Linked DNA regions of Homo sapiens. The protein of the gene in region 4 purifies or fractionates together with the protein of the main gene of each other region. This does not show direct contact. Each region holds a gene or a part of one and is shown on either strand. Other genes may lie near its edges. The genes, in order: FASTKD5, ERC1, AHCYL2 and MAPK4.

Region 1 (7,695 bases), on a different chromosome or scaffold from region 4:
CCTTTCCTAGTTTAAGTGCCCCAAGTATACCTTTCTCCCCTTTAGGGGTCCTAACGAAACAGAGTAGAGCCTCAGACACTCCTGGACCCTGTCAGTTCCAAAAGGCAATGCCCAAACCTCCCTGAATGATGTGATTTCACAGGACTGAAGAATCTTACCTTTCTCCCTTCCACATACCGGTCTGAGCAGAGCCGAATAGCTTCATTTTAAACTAGAGTCTAGAAGTTAGAGGAGGGGGGCCAGGCAGAGGAAGGAGCGATGCTAACTGTAGACTGAGTATAAGACACCTTAAACACATACAATTTACCACTTACCAGATCTGATCCCTCAATTCTAACACTTTTCCTTTCTATGTCCCAATAAAATTGCCACAAATAAATGAACACTCCAACCCTATTCTTGTCTCAGCAAATAATTTGTTGAGCAACCTTAAGAATTAAAAAGGCAAAAAAACTGGCTAGACAGGTGGCTCATGACCATAATCCCAGCACTTTGGAAGGCCGAGCAGGCAGATCACGTGAGGCCAGGAGTTCAAGACCAGTCTGGGCTACATGGCGAGACCCTGTCTCTACCAAAAAAAAAGGGCAAAAAAACCGAACTTTCTCTAGGTGCTGAGGTATTCTGCTGAGAATCTACAAAACTTCAAAGCCCCTAGTGAGGGCTTAGAGACTGGCAGTAAGGACCTTAGCTGTTAATGTGGATGTTAACTGGGCTAGACTCTTCTGTGTTTCTGTTTCCACACGGGAGCAGGGCCTCAGAGAGGAGTCTACCAGTACTGCGAAGGTGAAGCACTAGTGCAAAGGTGTTTAGGTCAAGTTCAGTGTCACTCGCAGGTCTAAGCCAAACTAAAATTATTCAGTCTAGCAATCCATCCCTTCCTTTTTGTTCTAGACTCCATGCTGATAGGAGAAAAACAGCACATCACAAACATTTGTGAAACTTTTTCAGCTACACAGCCCTTCCGCTTCTCTTTTAAGACTCTGCTATTCCTCTATCAGAATGGCAAGAAGGATGTGGGTAGATATAGTATGACTAAGCCCTGTAGATGATTCTGTTAGAGCTACTGCTTTTAAAGGGTTTCATAAAACCCTGTCTTTAGAAAACCTCTCCATATAACAACAGGCAGTAGGCACTCATGTCCTCTCAGCCCATCTAAATGGGGCTTCTAGAGGAATTACAAAATCCAGGCAGGTAAAGAGAAGTAGCTGCATGCACACAGTCGTCATAAGAGAAAATTCCCAAATAAATGGTCCAAGTACCTATAACTGTTAGCTCAATAAACACTTGGTTTTATCTGCTTTTACAATTTGCAAGGCTGTATAGAGGCTGTATAGTACATACTTCAGACAAATAAAGAAGGAGTTTCAGAATTCTTTTGTTTTTTTTTTCAGACAGGGTCTCGCTCTGTTGTTCAGTCTGGAGGGCAGTGGTGCAATCTCCGCTCACTGCATCCTCGACCACTGCCCCCCACCTCTCACCCCGGCAACCTCCCGGGCGAGGATCGCTCAAGGATCTCAAACGATCCTCCCACCTCAGCCTCCTAAGTAGCTTGGACTACAAGCCCACCACCACGCCTGGCTACATTTTGTTTTTTTGTGTGTTTTTTTTGTTTTTTGTTTTTTTCGTAGAGACAGAGTTTCCCTATGTTGCCCCCAGGTTGGTCTCGAACTCCTGGGCTCAAGTAATCCTTCCACTTCGGCCTCCCAAAGTGCTGGGATTACAGGCATGAGCCACCGCACCTGACCTTAGAATTATTTTATATCAAAGTTGACTTATTCACATGATGAATGGCAAGGCCTTATTAGGGACTAAAAAAATAAACCAATGGATGGGGAAGAAAATCATACTGACTAATAAACATTAGACCTGCATAACTGCCAAAGGCCTCACTTTTTAAGTTATGTTATGCAGCACAGAGTCTTCAGATTTTATTTACTTATTTATTTATTTATTTATTCATTTATTTGAGACGGACTCTCGCTCTCTCGCCCAGGCTGGAGTGCAGTGGCGCGATCTCGGCTCACTGCACACTCCGCCTCCCGGGGTTCACGCCACGCTCCTGCCTCAGCCTCCAGAGTAGCTGGGACTACAGGCGCCCGCCACCACGCCCAGCTATTTTTTTGTATTTTTAGTAGAGACGGGGTTTCACCATATTAGCCAAGATGGTCTCGATCTCCTGACCTCGTGATCCGCCCGCCTTGACCTCCCAAAGTGCTGGGATTACAGGCGTGAGCCACTGTGTCCGGCCCAGATTTTATTTTAGTCTACCAGGTAGTAGCAAACTATCCAAGGACTTGCCCAGGACCATTCAGGTCAGTGAGCTACAGAATCTAGTTCTGGAAAGGCAGCCATTCTTACTATTCACAAAGTGTAGAAAACGTGAATTCAGATTCCAGCAGCAACAAATGACTGGAGCACAAAACGCCAGCCACAGTTGGTGCTAACGCAGCTGGCTATCAGCTCCACAGGATGAAGCACTGTCCAAGGGTCTGATCAGTGAAGCATCACCCAAGACTGATGAACACAGCTGATATGAGGGGACCCAAAGTTCCCTGAGTCAAGACAGAAGAGCTGTGTCACGGTTTGCACAGAAAGAGAAAGAGCAACTATTCTTACCCACGGAAAGAAAAAGGGAGAAGGCCATCAATACTACCCTTAGGCTTGTGCAACGAGAAACTGCTAAAAATGGGGGGAAGGTATATATCCTATCATACTGATGTTTACCGAAGACTCCGCATCCCAAATGCTAAGCAACATACTGTAGGGCCTTGCTACTCAGTGTGTGGTCTGCGTGCCAGAGGCTTCAGCCTCGTCTGGAATCTAGTTAGGAACACAGTTATCTCAGAACCCACCCCAGTCCTACAGAATCAGAATCTCTAAGCGATTCGCAGGCACATCAAAGTGTGATGAGAGGCGCGGCAGAATATCTGACTACATTCTCTTAACAGCACCGTGAGACAAGTACTGTTACGATCTCCATTTCACAGAGGAAAAAAAATCAAGGGTCAGATAAGCCCCCTGCCAAAGATCACAAACTCAGGAGCGGCGAGAGTCACTGAAGTTCTCACCACAGCCAGGCCTGCGAGAGGCACTGGCAACCCAGGCCAAGAGCTGAACAAGGCCTCGATGCGCTCCAGCTCTGGGCCGGCCGGGAGGACAGGAGGCACAGGCCAAGGCCCAGGACGGTCGTGAACGCGGAAAGAGGCCGCCGCGACCTCCTCCCCGGCCGCCGCCACTCACCTGATCCTCCCGAAGGTGGGCGCCGCAACACCAAACCGGGGACGCCGCGGGCGGCGGCGACACAGATACTGGCTCCTCCGGCGACTCCGAGCCTCACAGCCCCACTTCCGGCCAACTGCCCGCTACTTCCGCCTGCTGCGCGAGTGACGGATGCGGCCGAGGCTCAAAAGACTCTGTCAGCGTTTCCCAAGGACATTTTCCACTGGAGGACGTTGTTGAGGAGGCAGGGGGAGTCTAGGACCTGCAGAGGGAAAACACCTTCCTGGATGGATCGCTCTGGAAGTCATTAAGCAGCTTAGTCCCGGCGCGGTGGCTCACGCCTGTAATCCCAGTACTTTGGGAGGCCAAGGCGGGCGGATCACCTGAGTTCAGGAGTTCGAGACCAGCCTGGCTAACGTGGTGAAACCCCCGTCTCTACTAAAAATACAAAAATTAGCCGGGCGTGGTGGCGCACGCCTATAATCCAGCTATTCAGGAAGCGGAAGCAGGAGAGTCGCTTGAACCCGGGAGGCGGAGGTTGCAGTGAGCCGATATCTCGCCACTGTACTCCAGTCTGGGCACCCCTGTACTCCAGCTCTGGGACACAGAGCGAGACTCCATCTAAAAAAAAAAAAAAAAAAAAAAAAGTAAGTAGCTTAGACACATGTTCAAATCTGAGGACCACCACTCAGGGTTTTATGGCCTTGGAGAAGTCACATAAATTCATTCTTGTTATATTATTATTATTATTTTCATAGAGACGGGGATGGCAGTGTCTTCCTATGTTGCCCAGGCTAGTCTCGAACTCCTGGGCTCATGCAATACTGCCGCCTCAGCCTCCGAAAGTACTGGGATTACAGGTATGAGCCATCGCACCCGGCCCACATAAATTCTCTAAGCCTGTACAGTGAGAAAAACAATACATTTTTTTTTTTTTTGAGACAAAGTCTTGCCCCATTGCCCAGGCTGGGGTGCAATGGTGCAATCATGGCTCACTGCAGCCTCAACCTCCTGGGTTCAAGTGATCCTCCTGCCTCAGCCTCCTGAGTAGCTAAGACCACAGGCATGCACCACCACACCTGTCTAATTTTAACAATGCATTGGTCGGGTGTGGTGGCTCACACCTGTAATCCCCGGTGTTGGAGACCGGCCTGGCCAACATGGTGAAACCTCGTCTCTACTAAAAATACAAAAAAAAATTAGCGGGGCATGGTGGCGTGCACCTGTAACCCCAGCTACTTGGGAGGCTAAGGCAGGAGAATCACTTGAACGCAGGAGGTAGAGGTTGCAGTGAGCCGAGATTGCACCACTGCACTCCAGCCGGGGCAACAGTGAGACTCCATCTTTTTTTTTTTTTAATGCATTTATAATAGAGATGTATCTGTAAAGTGCTCTCAGGAAAAGAGCTAGTGACATGATGGATAGATGAGCCTGCTGAGAGAAATGGATGTGGAGCTGGGGCTTAGCGAGGCCAGAGCTATGGAGCATGAGCCAGGGTGATTCTCCACCACCCTAAGAAGGAGGGCTGGGTCCTACTGGGTACATATATTGACACAGCTGTCAGTATAGGTACCTAGACAAGAAAGAGACTCTACTAAACCTCTACCTATCAGAAAGTCCTGGCCCCAGGCTGCCATTCCTGAGGGCACTTGAGATCTGCTGATCAGGGTCTTCATATCTTGTCAATGCCTTGGCTCTAAGGGGTGTGAAGGAGAGCTGAGAAATCATGCTCCCTCCAGGGCCTATCTTGTAGGGAAGACAAAATCAATGTAGGAAGAACACGTCCCTGCCAGGAGGGGCAAGCCTGACATCCCAACTCCTGAGCTCTGGAGACAGCGCTGTTTGAATATCTGGAGCCCCAGACCACAGACACCACTGCTTAGGGAGGGTTCTCTCCCTCAGGCCAGACCAGGGCAAACACTATTCATTGTTATGACTCTGTCCTTGCCAGTAGAACCCAGAGAAAGCAGAGAGCCTGCCCCCAAGGAATGAACCATGTTTGTTCCTAGGCAGCCATGACAATCCTGTTTCTCTTTGTAATACTCAAATTCCCATTCTCCCTTGAAGTGGGAGGAGCATGTGGCTCAGTTCTGGCCAACAGGACTTAAAGGGAAGGGTCCTGGGAGGGCTCTGGGAAAGCTTTTACTTTTCATGATAAAGTAGGGCCGCCTCAATGTCTTCATGGAGCTGTGGCAGCCACTTTGTGGTAAGGAGGGAACAACATGCCAAGGATGGAACAGTGGGAGGATGAAAATCTAGGTCCCCGAGGATCCAACAACCATGACACCACCTCCGGATTTCTTGTCAGGTTGGGGAAAAATAAACCACTCTTTGAGGTCCTTTGATTACTTACAGCAGAGTGCATTCTTGATTGTGTGCTTTGAGAGGATGACAGAGGAACTGTTGTAAAGGGAAGCTCTCTGCTGTGCAGCACGCTTGGGTCCCTTTTGCCTTTGGGGCTTCGCCATTAATTGCAAACCTGTTCCCAGTCTTCACTTCTATCCATTCAGCCCGCAAACATCTACCAGTTGCTGTAAGGTGGCTTAGGCGACTGCAGGCTGCATCTAGCTGTCCTGCGTCACCTGTTTTCTGGCTAGCAGCTTAGTGTCCAGATTCTGAGCTGGAGCCAGCTTTTAACCCCTTTGGCAACAGTCTGAGCTGAAGAGAAAGCCCCACTGGGCATATACATGGCACCACGACTCTTCCCGGGCAACGTGGCAGAACTTGGGCTTTGGGCCAACCTCCTAGCACGGCCCAGTGAGCACCTCCAGTCTCATGCCTCCTCTGGGAAATCTGTTTACTCCAGCTTTGCCCCCATCCCCCACCCGGGCCTCACCTCCCGCACCTGCAAAGACACAAGCAGGCCAAAGAATACCACTCAAGAGGCTTTTTCCGTTTTATTTCTTTGGGAAAGGAAAACAAAAAGTCTTTCCATCACATATGGTAGAGATATATATTTATATATATTTATATATAATTTCTTTTGTGGTTGGACGTCCCAAAGCTGAGTCTGTTCATATTTTTTTCTATTTTTTTCTTACTAATGCCTTCTCTTCTCCCTGCCCCTGTGGCCTAGGCCCAGGTTCTAGGGCAGGTACAGTGAGGGGTGAATGGAATGGGCAGTGGTCGCCAGGATGGCCTCCCACCCAGCTCAGAGACCTGGTGAGGACCACCCAGAAGGGCTGTGCAGAGGGTTAGAGGCCACACAGAGGGGCACTCATGTTTTTGTGGGGGATGCACAGCTCATTAAACAGTCACCAGTCATGGGAGGAGGCTGGTCAGGGGCTAGGGGACTTGCTCACAGTAGTTGCCAGCTCTCTCCACCTTGCCCCCCAAAACTCAGTCTTGGGGGTGGGAGGAAGAGAGTGAAAAAGAGAGAGATATAAGGGCTGAGGGCCAAGCCTCCTCCAATTTTTATTGCTGGTGAATTAGAAATTTGCTTTTCCCTTCCTGTCTTGGGGAGATAGACTCTGAGAGGGCCCCAAGAGAAGCAGCTGACATTGGCTGACCTAACCCCTCATGCCAGGCCTACCCTGGGCAGGTGCTGAGCCACCTCAGGGCGCCAGGAACCTCTCAGGTCAGCCTTGTTCTTCAAGGGCAATCACATCCAACTCTCCCCCCGCCCCCAAAACAAGGGCCTCCGGCTCAGACTTGGGCCAGTGGAGCTGGGAAGTGGGCAGTGCACCAAAGGTCAAGCGGAATTTTCTATTGGAAGAAAAGGTGAGACTTTGGGGAAGAGACTGCCTAGGAAGATGATGTGCTGAGCATGAAAGCAGAAAGAGGCTGGGGGAATAGAGTGCGGGAAGACATCGCAGACACTCGTCTGACCTCAGAAACTGGGCGAGGAGAGTGCCTGAGAGGCAGGTAGCACTTAATAGCTGTGTTAGAGCCGGACAGTGGTCCTGGGTGTGGGGTCAGCCAAGCAGATGGGGCTGTTGCCCTGCGGGATCCTGGCCAGAAGGGTGAGGGTAGAGCCGAGAAGCCGTCAGGCAACGCTTCCCAAGAACAGGAGGACAGATCTTCCCTGGGTGCTGGACTTCCAGCCCCAGTCCTCCCCTCCCGCAACACACACACAGGGACACACACTCACAACCAGGCCAGGCTCTGAGGCCTGAGTCCAAGAGATCTTGTTGGGGGAGGGGCTGGGCAGGTAGCCCTCTCAGCCAAAGGCAGGCCATCTGCTCCCACTTGTCCTGCCAATCTGCCCAGGGAGGGAGAGCACTGTAGGAGGGAGAGAGGTCTGGAGCCCAGGCTCTGTCAGTTTCAGCAAACCTGGTGCAGGCCCCCTCAGGCTCCATGGCCTAGGAGGTGAGCACAGAGAGCATCACTAGACACAGGGTGGCCAACAGTAGCAGCCCAGGCCTCCAGAAGGACTGGGGCACCTTATGGCACTGCACGTCTGCTGCCTCCATCTCCAACAAGGGGGTGCCGAGAAAGGGAGCATGACTCCCCCACCACCTAGGATTGCCCCCACTC
Region 2 (7,583 bases), on a different chromosome or scaffold from region 4:
GAATTGATGACGAATGGTCAGAAAAGGAGGAACAGTCATACCTAGAAATCAGCTTCCCTGTTGAATTTCACTTCTGGTATTTCCCTTTGGGATATATTCACTCAGGAGTGTCAGGATTTTTTTTGACTTCCAAGGGAAAGAAACTAGGCTTCAGAGAATTAGCATTTTGATACATCTTTTTATTGAAGGTCTTTTGAACTCCAGCAACTGTTAATCTTTAAAAGATGATGCTGGTAGTGAAATGCATTTTAAAATTTATATTCATGAATTTAAATTCCTGATTTTTTTTTTTTTGGTGAGTTTATTCTTCGAAAGAAATAGCAGTGCTTTTCAAGTGTTTGAAGACTACCAGAATTGAAAGCTCACTGCTTGCTAAAAGCATAATACCCAAACCGGAAATGATAAAGGAAAATGTCATTGTCTTTGTATTAAAAAAGAAAATATCTATTAAAAGTCATCATAAACAATGTTAAAAGAAAAATGGCAGACTTGGAAAAATATTTGTAACATACACAGCAGGTGAAAGGTTATTTTCCTAATATGAAGAGCTCTTAAAATGGATTAAGAAAAAATGTTCAATAACAAAATGGGCAAAGAACAAGGAGAGAGGAGTCACAAAAGTTGATATACAAAGACACAGATAGAAATGATTTGTAATATGACAAAAGTCGATATACAAAGATACATATAGAAATGATTTGTAATATGACAAAAGTCGATATACAAAGATACAGATAGAAATGATTTGTAATATGATAAAAGTCGATATACAAAGATACAGATAGAAATGATTTGTAATATGACAAAAGTCAATATACAAAGATACAGATAGAAATGATTTGTAATATGACAAGTCGATATACAGAGATACAGATAGAAATGATTTGTAATATGACAAAAGTCGATATACAGAGATACATATAGAAATGATTTGTAATATGACAAAAGTCGATATACAGAGATACATATAGAAATGATTTGTAATATGACAAGTCGATATACAGAGATACAGATAGAAATGATTTGTAATATGACAAAAGTCGATATACAGAGATACAGATAGAAATGATTTGTAATAAGACAAAAGTCGATATACAGAGATACAGATAGAAATGATTTGTAATACGACAAGTCGATATACAGAGATACAGATAGAAATGATTTGTAATATGACAAAAGTCGATATACAGAGATACAGATAGAAATGATTTGTAATATGACAAAAGTCGATATACAGAGATACAGATAGAAATGATTTGTAATATGACAAAAGTCGATATACAGAGATACAGATAGAAATGATTTGTAATATGACAAAAGTCGATATACAGAGATACAGATAGAAATGATTTGTAATATGACAAAAGTCGATATACAGAGATACAGATAGAAATGATTTGTAATATGACAAAAGTCGATATACAGAGATACAGATAGAAATGATTTGTAATATGACAAAAGTCGATATACAGAGATACAGATAGAAATGATTTGTAATATGACAAAAGTCGATATACAGAGATACAGATAGAAATGATTTGTAATATGACAAAAGTCGATATACAGAGATATAGACAGAAATGATTTGTAATATGACAAAAGTCGATATACAGAGATACAGATAGAAATGATTTGTAATATGACAAAAGTCGATATACAGAGATACAGATAGAAATGATTTGTAATATGACAAAAGTCGATATACAGAGATACAGATAGAAATGATTTGTAATATGACAAAAGTTGATATACAAAGATACATATAGAAATGATTTGTAATATGTATCAGAATTACAATTGTACATACTTTGTGATCCAGCAATTCCATCTTTGAGAGTTCCCAAGAAAAATGTGGATTCATGTGTAAAGATACATATGTGAAGGTGCATCTTACAATAGTGAAAAATGAGAACTAACCTAAAATATCCGTAAGTGGAATTTTATGACCAACATCTTCTCTCCAACCAATTTTTTTATTATGGTAAAATATATATAACATAAAATTTACCATCTTAACCATTTCGAAGTGTACAGTTTAGTGGCATTCAGTATATCCCATCTATCTCCAGAACTCTTTTCATCTTGACAGACTGAAACTGTATACCCATTAAACAATAACTCCTCGTTCTGTCCCACTCCTATGTCCTGGCAACCACTGTTCTAGTTCCTTCTTTATCAATTCGACTGCTCTAGATACCTCATGTCAATGGATACATATAGTGTTTGTCTTTTTGTGATTGGCTTATTTCACTTAGCACAACGTCTTGAAGGTTCATCTGTGTTGTAGCATGTGTAAGAATTTCTTTCCTTTTTAAGGCTGAAAATCATTAGCAGGTGATATGGTTTGGCTGTGTCTCCATTCAAATCTCAACTGGAATTGTATCTCTCAGAATTCCCACATGTTGTGGGAGGGCCATAGGAGGAGGTAATTGAATCATGGGGGCCAGTCTTTCCCATGCTATTCTCGTGATAGTGAGTAAGTCTCACGAGATCTGATGGGTTTATCAGGGGGTTCCGCTTTTGCTTCTTCCTGATTTTCTCTTGCTGCCGCCATGTAAGAAGTGCCTTTTGCCTCATACCGTGATTCTGAGGCTTCCTCAGCCATGTGGAACTGTAAGTCCAATTAAACAAGTGCCTTTTGCCTCATACCGTGATTCTGAGGCTTCCTTAGCCACGTGGATCTGTAAGTCCAATTAAACCTCTTTTTGTTTCCAGTTTTGGGTATGTCTTTATCAGCAGCGTGAAAACGAACTAATAGAGCAGCCACCTTATTTCCAAAAAAAAAAAAAGATTTTTTCAATGGATAATGCAGGTATTTATACCCTTATTTAAAGTATGAGGGATCTGAAACCCAGAAAGATGGTGACATGTCTAAATGTCATAACTAGTCAGCGTGAGAGTCAGAACTGAAACTCATGTTTTCTCATCACAGTTTCGTGTTCTTCCCAGTATGGTACACTGCTTAGGCCTTGAATACAAGGAATGATCTTTTATTGTTGCTTCTTCATTCCTAAAAATAAGATTTTTGATGTCACAGCCTTTTGGAATTCATTGTATAATGTGCTGGAATTTACATAACCATTCAGATTAAAGGTTCGTGTACCTTCTTTAGGGATAGAAGCTAAAGATCTACCCTCTCAAACATTTTAGTAGTTCATCTGCATTAACACCTTTATTTAATTAGCCACCCATGTTGTTACCGTCCCCTGTATAAAAAGCTTTGCATATTCTAACTTAAAAAAACTTTGCTATATTATTATCTTTGGGTATTACCAGTTTTGATTTCTGCAATCTGCTCTGTTTTTGCTACTAGAGGAGGAAAGCTGATTTGGAGTTTTCTTTTTTTCTTGGTTCTAGTTTTAGTGGGCTGCAAGGATTGCTTTGAATGCCAGCTCTATCACTTACTCTGTGATCTTGGACAAGTGCTTAAACCTCTCTAAGCCTCGTGCCCTCATTTATAAAATTAAATAATAGTACATGTGTTGGGTATCTAAAATAGTCAAATTCACAGAATCAAAGTGTGTAATGGTAGTTGCCGGGGGTAGGGGGAAATGGAGAGTTACTAATCAACAGGAATATAAACTTTTGGTTGAGATGAATAAACTCTACAGATTTGATGTATAACATTGTACCTGTAGTCAGCAGTAATGCATTGTACACTTAAAAGTTGTTAGGAAAGTAGATGTCATGTTAAGGGTTTTTACTACAGTAAAATAAAAAAAGAGTCCATGTGTCATAATGAAGATTAAATAACATAAAAAATGTGTGGTACAATCTGGCATATACAAACTACTTGTTAAATGTTAATATTTATTATTTAATGTTTATAATACTTAAAAGTCATTTTGTATTTCGCTGTCCTTCGGTTTTGCTTGTTTGTTTGTTTGTTTTGACACGGAGCCTTGCTCTGTCACCCAGGCTGGAGTGCAGTGGTGTGATCTTGGCTTACTGCAAACTCCACCTCCCAGTTCAAGCAATTCTTCTGCCTCAGCCTCCTGAGTAGCTGGGATTACAGGTTCGTGCCACCATGCCTGGCTAATTTTTCTATTTTTAGTGGAGACGGGGTTTTACCACGTTGGCCAGGCTGGTCTTGAACTCCTGACCTCGTGATGTGCCCGACTCGGCCTCCCAAAGTGCTAGGATTACAGGCGTGAACCACCGTGCCTGGCCAATTTTTGTATTTTTAGTAGAGATGGGGTTTTATCATGTTGGCCAGGCTGGTCTTGAACTCCTGGTGATCCGCCTGCCTCGGCCTCCCAAAGTGCTGGGATTATAGGTGTGAGCCCCCGCGCCTGGCCATCCTTTGTATTTTTTGATGAAAAAAAAAAATTTTTTTTTTTTTTTTTTTTTTAAGACAGAGTTTCACTCTTGTTGCCCAGGCTGGAGTGCAATGAGTGCAGTCTTGGCTCACTGCAATTCCCACCTCTCAAGTTCAAGCGATTCTCCTGTCTCAGCCTCCCGAGTAGCTCAGATTACAGGCACACGCCACCACGCCCGGCTAACTTTTGTATTTTAGTAGAGACAGGGTTTCATCATATTGGTCAGACTGGTCTTGAACTCCTGACCTCAGCTGATTTGCCCACCTTGGCCTCCCAAAGTGCTGGAATTACACAGGTGTGAGCCACCACGCCCGGCTGTTTTGATGAAATTTTTTGAAAGAATGTATTCATATTCCTGTAGATTTCCCATTTCCCACATTCCCTCAAATTTAGTTTCCGTGTTAATATCTTCTATTAATTTTGAACAGTGTCTTTATTGTAGTTTATGCAAAGTGAGGAGTGAGTGCCATACTTATTTTGCTTCCTGTTGAGAATAAACTGAAGTTAAATTACTGACATTTTGCATATTATCTCAATCATTTTTTAAGGACCTGTAAAACAGAATAAGGTGAATCCTAATTTGCTAGATGCAGATTTCTTGTAGCTATTTTTGATTCCTGCAGGCTGCTCTGATTTGCTACTTGAGGAGGAAAGCTGATTTGGGGGTTTTCTTTTTGTCTTGGTTCTAGCACATGCAGATGACAATCCAGGCTCTCCAGGATGAATTGCGGATCCAGAGGGACCTGAATCAGCTGTTTCAGCAGGATAGTAGCAGCAGGACTGGCGAACCTTGTGTAGCAGAGCTGACAGAGGAGAACTTTCAGAGGCTTCATGCTGAGCATGAGCGGCAGGCCAAAGAGCTGTTTCTTCTTCGAAAGACATTGGAGGAAATGGAGCTGCGTATTGAGACTCAAAAGCAGACCCTAAATGCTCGGGATGAATCCATTAAGAAGCTTCTGGAAATGTTGCAGAGCAAAGGACTTTCTGCCAAGGCTACCGAGGAAGACCATGAGAGAACAAGACGACTGGCAGAGGCAGAGATGCACGTTCATCACCTAGAAAGCCTTTTGGAGCAGAAGGAAAAAGAGAACAGTATGTTGAGAGAGGTATGTGACTACTTTTTTAGTTTTATGATTTGTTGGTTATCTTTTTTTTCACTGATTAATCAGCATCTTGGCCCCAGTGAATCTACGTGCTCTGCCGTGCTGGTGGAAGAGAATTTCATCCTTTGTATTTAAGTGCGTCACTGATTTCTGTTCTGATTTGCCCTGTTGTATGGGATGACATTGTCTGGTATGTATGCTGGCTCAGTGACTTTCTGGGTCTTTTCTCTCCTGCTCCCCTGATTTTGAGAGTTCATTTGTTGCTAAAGGGGTAAAAAATTCCTTGATTTTTCACTCATCTCTAGATCTGTTCATAGAGACAACAAACACAACAAAACCAGAATCAGAATAGCTAACCATTGCTTAATTTAAAAATATTAGTAAAAGAGAGTAAGCGGTTATCTCAGCTTATGTGTGCTTATAAAAGTCCTTGGCAGCAATAATGGATATTTGCCCTGTGGTTTCCATGGAAACTGTTGCCTTGCTGTAAAAGATACGTGATAAAAATCATTGGCTGCCATGGAGGCATAGCTGGAGAGAGTGATGTAGAGACACAGTGTTACTTATTTTTAGCTGACCTAGGTGACTACTGATAATTTTTTACTTTTCTAAATAATGTATCATTTTAAGAAGGCGTAAAGGAAGAAACCATCTTATATTGAATTAAAAAATTAATAGCCATAATAACTTTTCTATATATAGTTGGACTTCAGGTAATTTTCACTTTTGGGCAGGGGAAAATAAATCCCTAATCTGTGTTAGTATGAGTCTGAATAATTCCTTTTTAAATAAAATGTGAGGAAGGAGGTTTAAAAAATGGCGTATTCCCAAAGCAGCAAAATAATAATTTTTAAAAATACTTCTAAATTTGTAGGTTGTTCTATAATTTTTCCTTTTGTAAAAAGTCTGAAATCTTTTTTAACAGTGAGGGCATTTTTATTTTTGAAGTAGAACATCATTGTTTTTTAAAAACATGATGTTATTACACTGGAAATCCATTGTAGTAAAATTGGGAAATAGATTAACAAAAACTTATAACTCAAAGTATTGTTACCTAGTAGTAATTATTAACTTATGTATATGCTTCCAGTCATTTTTTTTTTATTTTAAATTTTTATTGTTTTTATTTTTAGAGATAGGGTCTCACTCTGTCACTCAGGCTGGAGTGCAGTGGCATGATCATGGCTCACTGCAGCCTTGAAATCCTGGGCTTAGGTGAGCCTTCTGCCTTAGCCTCCCTAGTAGGTAGGTCTACAGGTGCATGCCACCATGCATTGTTAATTTTTAAATTAAAAAAAAAATTTTGTAGAGACAGAGTCTCCCTATGTTGCCTAGGCTGGTCTTGAACTCCTGGCCTCAAGCAATCCTCCCTCCTTGGCTTCTGAAAGTGCTGACATTACAGGCAATATGCCTATGCCTGGCCCATTATTATTATTGTTGTTGTTGTTGTTGAAAGTGCTGAGATTACAGGCAATATGCCTATGCCTGGCCCATTATTATTATTATTGTTGTTGTTGTTGAAAGTGCTGAGATTACAGGCAATATGCCTATGCCTGGCCCATTATTATTATTATTGTTGTTGTTGTTGAAAGTGCTGAGATTACAGGCAATATGCCTATGCCTGGCCCATTATTATTATTATTGTTGTTGTTGAAAGTGCTGCGATTACAGGCAATATGCCTATGCCTGGCCCGTTATTATTATTATTGTTGTTGTTGTTGAAAGTGCTGAGATTACAGGCAATATGCCTATGCCTGGCCCATTATTATTATTATTGTTGTTGTTGTTGAAAGTGCTGAGATTACAGGCAATATGCCTATGCCTGGCCCATTATTATTATTATTGTTGTTGTTGAAAGTGCTGAGATTACAGGCAATATGCCTATGCCTGGCCCATTATTATTATTATTATTGTTGTTGTTGTTGAAAGTGCTGAGATTACAGGCAATATGCCTATGCCTGGCCCGTTATTATTATTATTGTTGTTGTTGTTGAAAGTGCTGAGATTACAGGCAATATGCCTATGCCTGGCCCATTATTATTATTATTGTTGTTGTTGTTGAAAGTGCTGAGATTACAGGCAATATGCCTATGCCTGGCCCATTATTATTATTGTTGTTTGTTGTTGTTGAAAGTGCTGAGATTACAGGCAATATGCCTAT
Region 3 (7,810 bases), on a different chromosome or scaffold from region 4:
TGGTAAAACCCCGTCTCTACTAAAATATGAAAAATTAGCTCGGCATGGTGGTGGGTGCCTTTAGTCCCAGCTACTCGGGAGGCTGAGGCAGGAGAATTGCTTGAACCTGGGAGGCGGAGGTTGCAGTGAGCCGAGATTGCGCCACTGCACGCCAGCCTAGGCAACAAGAGCGAGACTCCGTCTCCAAAAAAAAAAAAACAACTAGAAGTTCGAGACCAGCCTGGGCAACATAGCAAGAGCCCTACTCTACCAAAAACATTTTTTTTTAATTAGCCAGGTGTAGTGGTGCAAACCTGTAGTTCCAGTTACTTGGGAGGCTGAGGTGGGAGGATTGCTTGAGCCCAGGAGGCAGAGGTTGCAGTTAGCTATGATTATGCCACTGCACTCTGGCCTGGGCAGCAAGAGTGAGACTCTGTCTCGAAACAAAAAACCAAAGTTTTCTTCATATGTCTGGTGACTTTGGTTGTCTGTTCATACTTAAGAATGTGACACTAAATTGTTCACGGAAGCTCTGTGAACATGAGTATGGTCTTCAGGGCGGGTGATCTGGCTGGCTTATTTCCTTTGGAAACTCTCAATGTTAGTATCTTTGTTTTCTCTCTTGGATTGGTCAGATACCTCAGAGAAATTCTTCTTTTTTTTTTTTTTTTTTTTTGAGACACAGTCTTGCTCTGTTGCCCAGGCTGGAGTGCCGTGGCGCAATCTCAGCTCACTGCAGTCTCTGCCTCCCAAGTTCAAGCAATTCTCCTGCCTCAGCCTCCCGAGTTGCTGGGACTACAGGCGTGTGCCACCACACCCAGCTAATTTGTGTATTTTAGTAGAGACGGGATTTCACCATGTTAGTCAGGCTGGTCTCAAACTCCTGACCTCGTGATTTGCCCGCCTTGGCCTCCCAAGTGCTGGGATTTCAGGTGTGAGCCACCGTGCCTGGCCAAGAAATTCTTCTTTATTGGCCGGGCGCGGTGGCTCAGGCTTGTAATCCCAGCAGTTTGGGAGGCCAAGGCGGGCAGATCACGAGGTCAGGAGATTGAGACCATCCTGGCTAACATGGTGAAACCCCGTCTCTACTAAAAATACAAAAAATTATCCGGGTGTGGTGACACGTGCCTGTAGTCCCAGCTACTCGGGAGGCTGAGGCAGGAGAATTGCTTGAACCCAGGAGGCAGAGGTTGCAGTGAGCCGAGATCATGCCACTGCACTCTAGTCTGGGCGATGGCACGAGACTCCATCTCAAAAAAAAAAAAAGAAAAAGAAAAAAAGAAATTCTTTTTTATACCAATGTCCTGCATGGACGTTACATTCCTGCTTGCCAGCGTTCTGGAAGCTGAATGAGCCGGGTGAAGGAAGAAGACCTGTAGTCCAAATATTTCATTAAATAGTTCATAAACTGGTGCTTAATTACCCTGTTTCTAGTATGTAATTTGATCTTCAACTGTACCTGGTGTCCCTCAGCTACAAGGATGGCAGAAGCAGCAGGTATGTAGGGATGGAGTTGACAACAGGTTGAAGAATGTGTCCTGATGGTTGGCCCCAATCAGTGGTGGTGACTGGAATAAAACAGGGTATCAGTTTCATTCCAGTGCTCTAACTCCTTATATTTTATAACCACATCACACTGAAGAATTAATTCATCCTCTCAGTAATCAATTCTAGTGGCAGGTAGGCAGCTGCTGCCTATGAGCTCCAACACATGCCAGGTGGCTGTACCGTAGCTCCCTTGAGCATTAGGGGGAAGAATGAAATCAGTTACAGAGCTGCTAATCTCTGCTCCGACAGCTGGAGGATGAAGCTCTGGGCTGGTTTCTTTTTAACAGGAAGGAAATTCTGAAAGCCGGAATGTGAAGAAAAAACTTAAGAATCTCTTGTGTCTTGTGAGCTCTGTGGAAATGGCAGTGCTCAGATGCCTTCCGACATGTACTGTGAGGCACAAATTTGGAGATCAGGAAATGAGAGCCTCCATTCAAGGCAGGACAACCACACAGAGTGAACAGATTTCCAAAATAGTAGGACAGGAAAGAAGATCGAGGCAGGTGATTTCTCTCCCTTCTCCTTCTTTTTTTTTGAGACAGAGTCTTGCTCTGTTGCCCAGGCTGGAGTGTAGTGGTGCAATCTCGGCTCACTGCAACCTCCACCTCCTGCGTTCAAAGGATTCTCCTGCCTCAGCCTCCTGAGTAGCTGGAACTACAGGCAGAAGCCACCACGCCTGGCTAATTTTTGTATTTTTATTAGAGATGGGGTTTCACCACGTTGGCCAGGCTGGTCTCGAACTGCTGACCTCAAGTGATCCACCCGCCTCGGCCTCCCAAAGTGTTGGGATTACAGGTGTGAGCCACCATGCCTGGCCTCCTTCCTTCTCCTTGCCAGGCAAAACACAGTGACACCAAAGACTAGATGTCTAAAGAGTAGCTGTCCAGTGGCTGCCTGGGTTGTTAGGGCTGTAAGTCTCTGAAACAGCTGTAAACTGTATGAACCCCTTTGCTCCTGTTTCTCTGAGCATAGAGAGGAACCCCCCCCATAATCTGTCGCGAGTCAACTGCATTTTGTTTTTTTAAAGTATTCTTTTTTTTTTTTTTTTTTTTACGAGACGGAGTCTTGCTCCGTCGCCCAGGCTGGAGTGCAGTGGGGCGATCTCTGCTCACTGCAAGCTCTGCCTCCTGGGTTCACGCCATTCTCCTGCCTCAGCCTCCCGAGTAGCTGGGACTACAGGCGCCCGCCACCACGCCCGGCTTATTTTTGTATTTTTAGTAGAGACGGGGTTTCACCGTGTTAGTCAGGATGGTCTCGATCTCCTCACCTCGTGATCTGCCTGCCTCGGCCTCCCAAAGTGCTGGGATTACAGGCTTTTTAAAGTATTCTTTACATAAAATCTTATGGCATGTGCAATTTTGTCTCTTGCTTCTTAGCTTAATGTTTTTATCATAAGCATTTATTCTGAAAGCCAGAATGCCTTGATCTTCTTTCCTGTGCTATTACGATTTTGGAAATCTTCACTTCGTGAAGTTGTCCTGCCTTGGAGTCTCTCATTTCCTGATCGCCAAATTTGTGCCTCACACTATGTATCGGAAGGCGTCTGAGCACTGCCATTTCCACAGAGCTCACAAGTGTACCAGACACAAGAGTTTCTTAGCTTCCTCTTCACATTTTGGCTTTCAGAGTAAAGAATGAAAAAGGGAAAACCTTGTTGTTAAAAAGTATTGGCAAACAATTTTCTTTCTTTCTTCCTTTTTTTCTGGGACGGCATCTCACTCCGTTGTCCAGGCTGGAGTGCCGTGGCATGATCTTGGCTCACTGCAGCCTCTGCCTCCCAGGTTCAAGCGATCCTCCTGCCTCAGCCTCCCAAGTAGCTGGGATTTCAGGTGCCCGCCACCACGCCTGGCTAATTTTTGTATTTTTAGTAGAGATGGGGTTTCACCATGTTGGCCAGGCTGGTCTTGAAGTCCTGATCTCAAGTGATCTGCCGGCCTTGGCCTCCCAAAGTGCTGGGATTACAGACGTCAACCACTATGCCCAGCTGGCAAACGATTTTCAAAGGCTGTAACAATTGCTCTATTTGTTGGACATTAGTTTTAGACAGTTTTTTGTTATTAAAAAGGACGCTGCGGTGCATGTCTTTTTGCTTACATCCTCTAAATGTAAAATTTAAAAATAATACAGAAAAGTACAAAGTAAAAATCACCTTAAATCCCATCACTTAGGAAATTAACTACTCATATTCACTATTCATATCCCTCTATGCTGATATATGTATCTGAATTTCAGATGATTGCCCTATTAGAATTATAGGTGAAAAGATTTGGCCTCGTTTAAGGCAACGTGTAATTCCTCAGCCTTGAATTTTGATCTAGTGATACCTAACTTCTTTGAGGAATGATCTTAGCTTCCAAACCCAGAATGTGACAGAAAGCGCCACAGCAAGCAAGGTCCTACTTTATCCCTTCTAAAAACAAAGCCACTGAAGTTTGGAAGGGTGTTGAGTTCTCAATATCACAAAGAAAAATAAAGCCACTTCCAGCCTGGAGCCGCCGCTTCTCCTTTAAATACTCGCTCACGTGATCGCAGACGGGCACGCGCGGAGGAACTTCACGCTGTCAGGACAACGAGCCATTCCTCTACCACTTCCCCTCCCCTAAGGCTTCTTGGCGTTCCCTCCCCGGAAGTCACAACTCCTCTGGAGACTTTCTCTTCCTCATCCCCTCCGTCGAGTCACCTATCCTCACTCCTTTCTGTTAGCTGCCGGCCCTAGCGCTCCCTCTCCTCGGCTGAATCTCACTTAGTGGAGGAAAGGCTGAAAGGACTACAACTCCCAGGGGACGCTGCGGGCCCCGCCCATGGGGCGCGCAGTGTAGGTCGGGGCCTGAGGTCCCACGGTCTTCTCGCCGCGTGCGGCCGGGAGCAAACGCACTACAGGTTCCGTGGCGCCTCGCGCGAGGCCAGACCGGGACGGGGCGGGGCGGGGCTGGAGGGGCCGGGACTGGCGGGCGGAGAAAGGGGGTGGGAGAGGAGGCGATGGAGGGGAGGAGTGGGGACATGGGGGAGGGAAGAGGAAGGGAGGTGGGAGGCGGGGCCGACCAAGAGCAGGAGCTGGAGTCTGAGCCGGTGGTTGCAGCGGAGGCGGTGATGTCGGTGCAGGTTGTGTCAGCCGCGGCTGCCGCCAAGGTGCCTGAGGTGGAGCTGAAGGACCTGAGCCCCTCCGAGGCGGAGTCGCAACTAGGACTGAGCACGGCCGCCGTGGGCGCCATGGCCCCCCCGGCGGGCGGTGGAGACCCTGAGGCTCCAGCTCCCGCCGCGGAGCGGCCCCCGGTCCCCGGCCCGGGCTCGGGGCCCGCCGCCGCTCTCAGCCCCGCCGCCGGGAAGGTGCCTCAGGCGTCGGCCATGAAGCGGAGCGACCCACATCACCAGCACCAGCGGCACCGCGACGGCGGCGAGGCCCTGGTCAGCCCCGACGGCACCGTCACCGAGGCGCCGCGCACAGTCAAGAAGGTACTGGGGCCGGGCTGCCTCTCTAGGAGAGGAAGGGAGGGGAGGGGAACTGCAGATCCTCTCGGCACGGCGGCACCACCCTCCACGCCCTCCTTTCTGATCGCAGGACCGGAGATACCCCTTGTCCCCTTAAACCCACTCTCTCAGAGATGCCCCCCAGCCGGCCCCTCGTGCTGGGAGCGGAGACTCCAGGAGGCACGGCCGTACTTCGCTCTGAATAACATGGAGGTAGCGCTCTCCCCTACTACTTGGAATAGGCAGCGGGAGGAGAGACACCTAATAGTACGTCCCGCGGCCCCAACACGCTCCCGGGTGTGATTTTCCAGCCTATCGGGGAAGAGACCTCGATAGTATAGAAAAACCTTACCGCTCACGGGAGTTCACACAGCAATAAGGATGAAAAGATCTTTAATACTTGGAGAACGAGTAAGGTGTAGTCACCTTGCATAGAAATCGTCAGAGTTGTCTGGTTTCCATACAGTTGATGACTTTCTGCCTTTCTGTGGCCAACCGTGGCCATACAGCAACACGATGCTGTGCCCTTCATTTCCAGCGACTGCGATATTCTCTCTTCCCTGAATATGTAAAAGGGTAATGGAGAGATTCTCCTCACTCTTTCGTGTTAAGAGCTTTGTCCTCCCTGCTGGGTATAGTTGGTCACCAGGATTATTAGGCTGTGTATGAAGAGAATGAATGTCTTATTGATTGCTTTATTATAATCTGAAAGTGATAGGAAGAAATGCTGCTACTTTTGGGAAAGACGATCTTTGTGGGGTTTTCGGTCTTAGGCGTCAGCTTCTTTCAGACAGTTTTGAGGAGGTCTCAGAATACCAAGAAGTAACTGCCTAGGTGGATGATAGCCCTGTATTACCCGTACATTGTCTATCCATAGTTGTCTGTCTCTCTCAAAGCTTGTCTTTCTTTCTCTCTTAAAGCTGAATCAGCACAGAAAAACAGGGCAAGTATTGGAAAAGACAGAAGTGTGGATCATATAAAAAGGGCTTACAGCTTCAATTTCGTAGACACAGTATGGGCACAGGGATTAATGTTTTTTTTAAATTGTTGTGAATGGTTTTTAATTGCTTTATCAGAACAGCAACAAAGAGACGGGAAGTGTGCATTGGTTTTACTGTGTGGGACCAGCTGAATTGGAACCTTGGATCCACCATAACTTTTTGTTGTCATAGCGTCATGATTAAGGTATAGCGGATAATCCTTTCATCCTAACGATACAAATTTAGGTGATAAGTCAGAGGCAAGACTGAAGGAATTTCTGTAATGCTTTAGACAATGTCTTTGTCGTTTGTAGTATGAAACTCCTCTGGGAAGAATTAGAGTAGAAAGAGGCAGCATCCTGCAGAAATGGGTTTAAAGAAAAAAAGTAAAGTAAAAAAGAGAGGCAGCAGCAGCACCAGTGCTGGGAGTACCTAGATCTGAGTCTGGAAATCCAAAGCATACTTCTGACTTGTTGAGATACTTTGTATCGTTAAGTCATTTTCTTGTGATAAAGACTGTTTTTGTCTAAACTTTGTAATTTGGTTAGATTTCTTTAGGCTAAAAGTGTTTAACAAATTGCTTTTAGAGCATGAAGTTTACAGTCAGGCAGACCTGGATTTGAAGCCTAGTACCCCCATTACTACCTTTTGGGTAATTTCCAAATTACACAAATCAGTTTCCTCTTCTATAAAATGAAAGTACTAATTATGATTGAGGATTAGAAATATTTGTAAAAGGTTTAGCATTGAGCTTGGCACATAAAGTCTTAAATGATATTCTTACTAATGCTTTTATTATTATGAATAATTGATTTTATTTTATTCCTCCCATCATGGCTTAAGTGCAAGCCCCCATGACCACCTCTGAAAGTTACACACAGTTCAATATATTCTATATAAAGAAATTAAAAAATCATGGCTCACGTCTGTAATCCCAGCACTTTGGGAAACCACGGCTGGTGGATTGCTCGAGTCCAGGAGTTTGAGAACAGTCCGGGCAACATGGTGAAAACCTCTCTCTCCAAAAAAAAAAAAAAAAAAAAGAGCCGGGCATGGTGGTGTGTGCCTATAGTCCCAGCTACTCAGGAGGCCGGGGTGGGAGGATCACCTGAGCCCAGGAAGTTGAGGCTGCAATGAGCACTCTAGCCTGGGTGCTGGAGTGAGACCTTGTCTCAAAAAAAAAAAAAAAAAAAAAAAAGTTAAAAAATCAAAGACCAGCATACTGGAGTCTGTTTTTCTTAATTCTAGATGTGCTTCTTGACCACTTTCCTTGTCGTTGAACCATCTTCCTGTTTTTTCAGCACCAAATGTATGTTCCATGATTGTAGATATACTCAGCAGCCTCAAGGCTATTGTAAAGCAGGGCTGAGCTTGCCTTACAATGTTAATTGCACCAAAAAAACAACTTCTCTGCTGAAAGTTAAGCAGGTGAAGCTCTGGGCAAGGATACAGCTGGATGACGAAATTCAGGGCATTGCTGAGCTGCTTTTCAGGTGCCCAATCTTTAACCTTCTTGATATTGAATTGGCTAAATCAAAATAAGTGCCCAAGACTGCCCTTTCCCTAAGTTGAAAGTCATCTCACCAAGGAACTGCAGTGTGACATTTTGATTTGTTGAGCCTTTGTTGATTCTTAGATTGTCTATGTAAATAACCACTTTGACCTTGACTCCTTACTGTTTTTCTTATAGCATATGAAGGAACTGAGAATACTAGTATTGAAATAGCTGCCTTTGGCTGTGGAACTGGTGACTGTTGCATTTGTTTTTTAACTTTCATGTATAAACATTTATTTTAAGTCACATTTCCATAGATGGTTTTCCTTACTTCATTCAC
Region 4 (7,583 bases):
CTTGGCCTCAGCCTCCCTGTGAGTGCTCTCCCCACCTCCTCAGCCTGCCCTGCTTCTCCTCAGGGGCACCGTCTCCCCTCAGCTCTGTTGAGTTGAGGCCATCCTTTCTCCCATGCCCTGTACACAGAGCGGGATAGAGCCTCTGCATCCTCCTTGCTCACCATTGCTTGCCTGCTATTAACAAAGCAGCCCTCCTCTGTGGCCTACCAGATGGCCCCTCTTCTTCTCTATCTTGTCCTCCCGTGCCAGCACCTCATCTCATCTCCCATCATCCCCCACACTGAGGCTGTTGGCACCTACGTCATGGCCTCCCTCTCCACAATTGGTCCCACATCATTCTGGCTGTGAGGCTGATGTGACTCACTTATCTACTATCCTGACACAGAGCCCCACATCCTCAGTTCCTGGGACACTCACTGCCCTTGTTGTCAGCCTGTCCTCCCCACATCCACCCTGGACTTTGTGTCATCACCCAGAACTGCTCAGGGGAGGAGAGATCTGAAGCGAGTATCAGAGTGGCAGACGCTGGGGAGCTGAGTGTCCAGGGAATGGAAAAGGGCACGAAAGCTGGAAGGCCTGAGAAGTACCCACCCACCTCCTTGCTTGATCATGACTGCAGTGTGGCCCAGGGGGAGCGTGTTTTCTCTTGGCAATCAGCTTACAGGAGGCATGGCCAGCACTCATGGCCTGCATTGGTAGGCCTAGGCTCCTGGGGCTACCCCACACTTCCATGTTGGGAAGGGAGGGGGAGAGTGAGGGAGTAGGATAGCCTTACCCCAGCCCCCTTTCAGAACCCCAAGACCTAGTAAGATTCCCCCCACTAAAGCCCCTGAATCCCACAAAATATAAGACAGCAGTGGCCCTTCTAGTATCCCCTAAGAGCAAAGGTGTGTCCTTAGCATCCATGTGGGCTCCCTCCACCCTGAAATCTCTGTCTACAAACCTGAGCCTGCAAGTGGCAGGGCTAATCAAGATTCCCTGTGGCCCCACGGGGAGCCGACAATCTCAGTTGCTGGCCTGTTGTTCTTGTTCACTGTAGAGTGACCACATATGGGCAGCTGGTGTAATAATTAGCTCATGGGCACTGCAGACCACCTAAGCCCACAGGTGAAAAGGAGCTGCCCACTCACCTGTCAAAGCCCCTGGCTCTCACAGCTGCTCATCTGCTGTGTGCACAGAACATAGTGCTAAGGATGGGGAGAGGGATTGCTGTGGGACAAAGGGACAGTGAGGAGGCAGGGGGAGAAAGTCAGACAAGGGCCTCTCCAGGGAACTTATGGTCTTGAGACAGAATTTTAGATGCCAGCCCTAGAAGGGGCCCAGGACAGCCCACCTCTTTTTTAACAGGTGATTTGGTTTCAAATAATGCAGGGTGGGAAAATGAGCCCAGAGAAGAAGAAATGGCTAACAGTGGCCTTTCTGAGGGAACACCAGCAGGACATTAAGAGAAAGCCATGTCTGAATAGCTAAGAAAGTCTTTATTGTGTTTTGTTTTTGAGACAGTCTCGTGCTGTCCCCCAGGCTGGAGTGCAACGGCATGATCTTGGCTCACTGCAACCTCCACCCCCCATTTCAAGCGATTCTCATGTCTCAGCCTCCCGAGTAGCTGGGATTACAGGCATGTGCCACCACACCCAGCTAATTTTGTATTTATAGTAGAGACGGAGTTTTGCCATGTTGGCCAGGCTGGTCTCAAACTCCTGACCTCAAATGATCCACCTGCCTCAGCCTCCCAAAGTGCTGGGATTACAGGCATGAGCCACTGCACCCAGCCTGCCAAGAAAATATTTATATTGGGCACAGTTAAATCTTAGGCACCATAGGAGCAGATTTATCTAATAAGGAGTAATGAGAGACCCAGAAAATGTAATCTCTCAATCACAGCAATGAGGGAATTATTCAGTGCTATGCTGGGCTAGTCACTCTTTCATTCATGATGCTAACTTCTTCCAGTAAGTATTTAAAATACATGCTATATATAAAACATATATTAATATGATATGTTAATATTAATTATATGTTAATGTAACATTAAGTAACAAGAAAAGGTAAAATAGGTTGGGCATGGTGGTTCATGTCTGTAATCCCAGCACTTTGGGAGGCCGAGGTGGGCGGATTGCCTGAGGTCAGGAGCTCCAGACCAGTCTGGCCAACATGGTGGAACCCCGTCTCTACTAAAAATACAAAAAAATTAGCTGGGCGTGGTGGCATGCACCTGTAATCCCAGCTACTTGGGAGGCTAAGACAGGGGAATTGCTTGAACCAGGACGGTGGAGGTTCCAGTGAGCCGAGATCGTGCCACTGCACTCCAGCCTGGGCGACAGAGCAAGACTCCACCTCAAAAAAAAAAAAAAAAAGGTAAAATAAAAACAATGGCAGGAAAGTCAGATGAAGCTGAAGTCAGGGCTTATGTCCAAACATTTAGGCCCTGAGTACAAACGTCTTCATTTGCCCCCTGGACTCTCAGGAGCCCCTACAGTTTTCCCTCTGGTGGATTTTGTGCTTTGGGTGGATCCTTGACCACGTGCTGGGGATACAAGTCTGAGTAAGACATAGTCTCTGTCCTCAAAGGTCTGATGGTCCAGCAGGGGACACAAAAGGGTTAAAAACAAAACAAAAAAAAATACACAGTGAACCTATCTGTGCCCAGGGTGAGCCATCCTGCTATCTTATTTTTCCAACTGAAATTGCACAGACCTCCCAGTTCCGTATTTTCCAGCCAATTCAAGGCAGGGGAGAAAGGAGGAACAGGTGGGAGGGAGGTCTCGCCCTGGACTCTGACTCAAAGACTCTTCCCACCCTAGCCATAGCCACTAAACCCTGGATGGCTCAACATCTCTGGCCCTGCCCCCACGATCTGGGTCATAGGTGCCTGGCTGCCTCCATTCTCCCAGCCTTGAACCCTCAGCTCACAGGGCTGTGCTCCAGCTGCCCTTCCAACAGGCTGACAACCTTCAGGCCAGACGGAGAAGAGCTGGGCTTCTCCATACCACAGCAGGCAGGTGACTCACTGAGAGCCCAGACGAGACTGTATAATCCACAGTCTATTGGCCTCTCATCTTCAGGCTCACTGTCTGTGGTCACGAGATGGTCGCAATCGCTTTCAGGTTCTCATGCAGAAGTGTCCAACGAAGAAAGGTAGGGAGGGGTCAGCCAGGGCAGCCAAACAGCTCTCCTCACATTTCTCTCTTACCAGGGAGGAACACCTTCCCCGGAAGTCCTTCCAGGAGATTCCTGTCCCTGTTTGATTGAATCACATGGCCTCCCCTTATTGCAAGAGAGGCAGGGAAGGCAACAGCTGGTGTGACATGGAAAGGACCTTCTTTCAGTAGGAAAGGGACATTGACCATAGTATCCTCCATGCTTCACACCTTCTCCCATTTTCAGTGGTGGCTTAGTAGACTCAGTGTTAAGATGCCTCCCCCAAGTGACGTCTGTCACAAAGAATCACTCACGGATGATTAGGACATAAATCCCCAAGGTGGAATTATTCCATCAGCTTCTCTCAAAGCCACTCTTCCCCACTCCTAGAAGCAAAGGAAGTCAAGAGTTATTAAACATCTGCTACAAGCAAGGTATTTCTCCCGGAGCCTTCATCTGCCAACACACTTGACTCCTTATAATACTCATTCCAAGTATAAATAATCATCCTCATTCCACAAGGGGTGGGGGAGCTAGGTCTGCCTCCAGGGCTGTCTGCCACCAAAGCTCTTGCTTTCCGCCCCAGGCCATGGATTCCCAGGGAGGCCCCACTGGCTGCCTCCCATATGACACCATTGATCTCGGGCAGGAGCAGACAAGTGAAAGAGGCTCATTCTCTGCCCCCACCCCCGCTGTGGTTGAAGAAGCTACTCCAAGCAGAAGGTTGTGTATTACTAGTTTGTGTGTCACACAGGAGAGGGGTCAGGGGCTTGGGAGCAAGGTCCCACCATCTCTGTCTGCAGCTTGATCACCCATTGACCTCATGGTCCCCTGGTGGGTGGTGTGGAGTACACATTTGGAGAGAGGACCCCACAGGGGGCTTCCAGAGCCCTGAACTGACCCAATGAGTCCACTGCAGGGAGAGGCCAAAAGGACCTCTTCAGGAGAGAGCCTGAGGCTGCAGGCACTTCTTCGGTCAGTATTCACATGTGCTTAGGGCCACACAGGGAACTGTGGGGGCACCTGGGAGAGCCCTCATCCTAGGCTGGATGACTGGAAGACTGGAATCCCATGGGAATTCATGGCAAGGGGAGGGCCCTCTGTGCAGCTGGATGGGCAGGGAAGACTTCTTGAGGAAGGAGAGGTATGGCTGAAGTTTTAACCTAGTACAGCTAAGTGGAAAGGCAACTCAATCAAAAAAGAGAAAATGGAAGTACAGAAGAACAGCCTGGAGGTCAGAGAAGGACAGCAAGGAGACCCATCTGTCCAGAGCCAGAAATGCCATACGGTGGCCAGTGGTTGTCTGGGTGTGGGAGGTGAGTTGAGTTTCTGAGACAAAGACTGAAGCTTCTTATGAATGAAAACTATGCCTCACCGATTCCCAGCAGTCAGCGTGATGCCTGGCATGGAGAAGGTGCTCGATAAATAACTATTTATGGAATGAGGGAATAAATGAATGTTTGAGTCCATCCTGTCCCACCAAAGTGCCCCTGCAAACCTGGCATAGCCTGGCCTGCCTTCCTTCTCCCAAGGATCACAGAGGCCATGTGCTCAAGATACATCCCAAACCCAATTTGTTATTCCTGATTTGTTTTTCTCTTGAAAGTTTCCTAGATGGAACCCTCTTAATTAGAAACCAAAAGGTATGGCTCATTCCCAGCCTTAAAACTGTTTCCTTCCCCATCCTAGTAAAGATTGTGCAGAGAGGTCTATGGGAAGTTGCACTTGGAAGGCCTTGAGCCAGGCTGTTCCCATTCTTTAGTGCTGACTTATATCCAGCTGGTCTGAGACACAGAATGCTAGGGGAATAGATGGGGCCTTGCAGACTACCAGATTCAACTCCCTTTTTCTACTTTTGACAAAGCCAAGCCCCAGAGATGTCAGCCACCTGCCCACAGTTGAGCAGCAAATGAAGACCAGAACCCCGGTCCCAGCCCAGTGCTGCCCCACTGCCCTGTGTTGTCCCTCCCAGAACACCTGGCACTGCTTTTGGGCTACTGCACACCACAGCCCCTTGGACAGCACACTTAACCATCTGGCATTGCCTCCCCAGGGGCCCATGAGCTGGAGCAGATGCAACTCATCCTGGAGACCATCCCTGTAATCCGGGAGGAAGACAAGGACGAGCTGCTCAGGGTGATGCCTTCCTTTGTCAGCAGCACCTGGGAGGTGAAGAGGCCTCTGCGCAAGCTGCTCCCTGAAGTGAACAGTGAAGGTACCTGAGCCTGGCAGCCAGGCCAAGTGTCCTGGGAGGATGAGCTAGGCTCCACCTTGCGGGGTAGGGGGCAGGCAGGTCTCCTTCCAAAAGGGCAAAGCATGGTCCTTGGATATAAAAGTCAAGGCTCCCCTGCCAGTGGGCCTTTGCCCTAACTACTTCCAAGCTGTGGATGCTGGGCCTCAGGAGTCCATTAGGGGCAGTCATTAGTGTTCTACCCTTGTTTCTGCTGCCTTTTGCTTCTCATCTTCCTTGCTCACCTTCCTCCCTCTCTTTCCTTCATCCTCCCTCACATTTTTGTCCTGGAAGGCTTGGTGTGCTGCAAAGAACAGGAGCTTCCTCAGCCTGAGGGCAAGACCCAGGTCCCATTCCACCAGTGATGAGCTGTGTGGCCTCAGGCAAGGACCGCCCTTCACTCCTCAGGCTTACTCCCTCTACTGTATATTCAAGGCTCAGCAGGCCTGGGAAGAGGCCAAAGGCTCTAGCTGCCTCTAGCTCTCAGAGGCTCAGGAGACCCAGTCTCGGTGACAGCATCCCTCAGCAGCCGAAACGTCCATCTTGTGACAGGTGCAGAACAAGGGAGGCAGGCCCCAAGACCACACTGGGGGCATTAATTCTGAGCTCCATTTATTACAGGACAGAAATAGACCAAAGGTGATGAATCTGATGACAAAAACTCAGGTGCGGCACAGGTGAAAGGCGGGCTCTGGATGAAGCAGGGTTGAGGGGCTCAGTGTCCTGCCCACCTGCCTCTCAATCTCCAGACATGCTCCTGAGAACCCTTCCAGAACCCCTGGGGCTCTGAGCAGCTCAGTTTGGAATCCACTGGGCCAGAGGAAGGTGACAAGATTGTACAGAAGCTTCATTATCTAAGAAATGACTTAAAAACATCCGGGGAGGGTGAGCCTAGGGAGGAGGAGTTTCTGAGGGGCGGTGGCTTAGGAGTTAAGGTGAAGCTTGTACAGTAGCAGATAACCCTGAAATCTCCGTGGCTTAACCCACTTACAGTTTATTCATTGTTTACTTCACTTCCAGGCAGAGTTGGGAGCATGGATGGGCAGGGGAGGATGAGTGGCTGTGCCCGGGACCCAGGCCATCAGGTCTGCCATCTTCAGCAGGTGGCTTTCAAGGTCACCTTGGGCATTCCCTTCCAGCCAAAGCCAGGGGAAGAGAGAGCAGAGACTCTTGCAGGAGGTTTTTCTGGGTCAGGCCTGGAAGTGGGGTACACACAGCACTTCCACCCCCATTCCATCAGCCCCAGGCACACAGCCATTTCTCACTGCAGGAGGGGCTTGGAAAGGCAGGTCAGAAGGGTGCCAGGATGGATGTCACATGGGACATGACTGCTGCCTTGAAACAGAAGAGGGGAAATCGTGGGACAGAGAGGACATGCTGCTTTGGGGAAACCACTGAAGGCAGAGGTAGGCCCTAGGGTAGAAGTTAAAGGGGGATTTAAGTTTGATAAAAGGAAGTATTTTCTGGGGCAGGTGTGGTGGCTCAAGCCTGTAATCCCAGCACTTTGGGAGGCCGAGGCGGGCAGACCTCTTGAGCCCAGGAGTTTCAGGCCAGCCTGGGCAACATAGGGAGACCCCATCTCCACTAAAAATATAACAAATTAGCTGGGCATGGTGGCGCACACCTATGGTCTCAGCTACTTGGGAGTCTGAGGCAGGAGGATCACCTGAACCTGGAAAGTTGAGGCTGCAGTGAGCCGTATTCCCATCACTGTACTCCAACCTGGATGGCAGGAGTGAGACCCTGTCTCAAAAAAAAAAAAAAAAGAAATGAAGAATTTCCTAGTGTTTGGGCTTCCCAGAAGTATCTGGGGACCTGCAGGAGGATCAGCTGTCAGGGAGAGGGAAGAGCAGATTTTCATCCGTGATGGAGTCTGTGGAGCAGCTTTGGGGTTGGTACTCGACTTTTTTTCTTTTGCGACAGGGTCTCACTTGTCACCCAGGCTGGAGTGCAGTGGTATAATCATGGCTCACTATAACCTCAGCCTCGAGGGCTCAAGTGATCCTCCCACCTCAGCCTCCCGAGTAGCTGGCACCACAAGCATGCGCCACCTTGGCTGGCTAATTTTAAAATTTTTTTTGTAGAGACAACCCACTACTGGCCCACCTGGCCAACTACTACTCGTCTTGCTAGAAACAAGCCCAGGGTGATCTCAAACTCCCAGGTTCAAGCAATCCTCCTGCCTTGGCCTCCCAAAGTCCTGGGATTACAG

The links.
Region 1: the proteins of MAPK4 (region 4) and FASTKD5 purify together in Homo sapiens (affinity purification with mass spectrometry; 3 studies listed by BioGRID and IntAct, with this or other methods). This does not show direct contact.
Region 2: the proteins of MAPK4 (region 4) and ERC1 purify together in Homo sapiens (affinity purification with mass spectrometry; 2 studies listed by BioGRID and IntAct, with this or other methods). This does not show direct contact.
Region 3: the proteins of MAPK4 (region 4) and AHCYL2 purify together in Homo sapiens (affinity purification with mass spectrometry; 2 studies listed by BioGRID and IntAct, with this or other methods). This does not show direct contact.

What each region holds. Positions count from the first base shown.
Region 1 is NC_000020.11:3,156,526-3,164,220, forward strand, and holds the start of FASTKD5 (FAST kinase domain-containing protein 5, mitochondrial), read right to left. Parts: upstream 3,341-7,695; 5' UTR 3,241-3,340; intron 1-3,240. UniProt on the Homo sapiens protein: Plays an important role in the processing of non-canonical mitochondrial mRNA precursors.
Region 2 is NC_000012.12:1,078,156-1,085,738, forward strand, and holds part of ERC1 (ELKS/Rab6-interacting/CAST family member 1), read left to right. Parts: intron 1-5,008; coding exon 5,009-5,425; intron 5,426-7,583. UniProt on the Homo sapiens protein: Regulatory subunit of the IKK complex. Probably recruits IkappaBalpha/NFKBIA to the complex. May be involved in the organization of the cytomatrix at the nerve terminals active zone (CAZ) which regulates neurotransmitter release.
Region 3 is NC_000007.14:129,220,460-129,228,269, forward strand, and holds the start of AHCYL2 (adenosylhomocysteinase 3), read left to right. Parts: upstream 1-4,570; 5' UTR 4,571-4,617; coding exon 4,618-4,980; intron 4,981-7,810. UniProt on the Homo sapiens protein: May regulate the electrogenic sodium/bicarbonate cotransporter SLC4A4 activity and Mg(2+)-sensitivity. On the contrary of its homolog AHCYL1, does not regulate ITPR1 sensitivity to inositol 1,4,5-trisphosphate.
Region 4 is NC_000018.10:50,716,744-50,724,326, forward strand, and holds part of MAPK4 (mitogen-activated protein kinase 4), read left to right. Parts: intron 1-5,194; coding exon 5,195-5,356; intron 5,357-5,363; exon of another isoform or gene 5,364-6,196; intron 6,197-6,641; exon of another isoform or gene 6,642-6,677; coding exon of another isoform or gene 6,678-6,777; intron 6,778-7,583. UniProt on the Homo sapiens protein: Atypical MAPK protein. Phosphorylates microtubule-associated protein 2 (MAP2) and MAPKAPK5.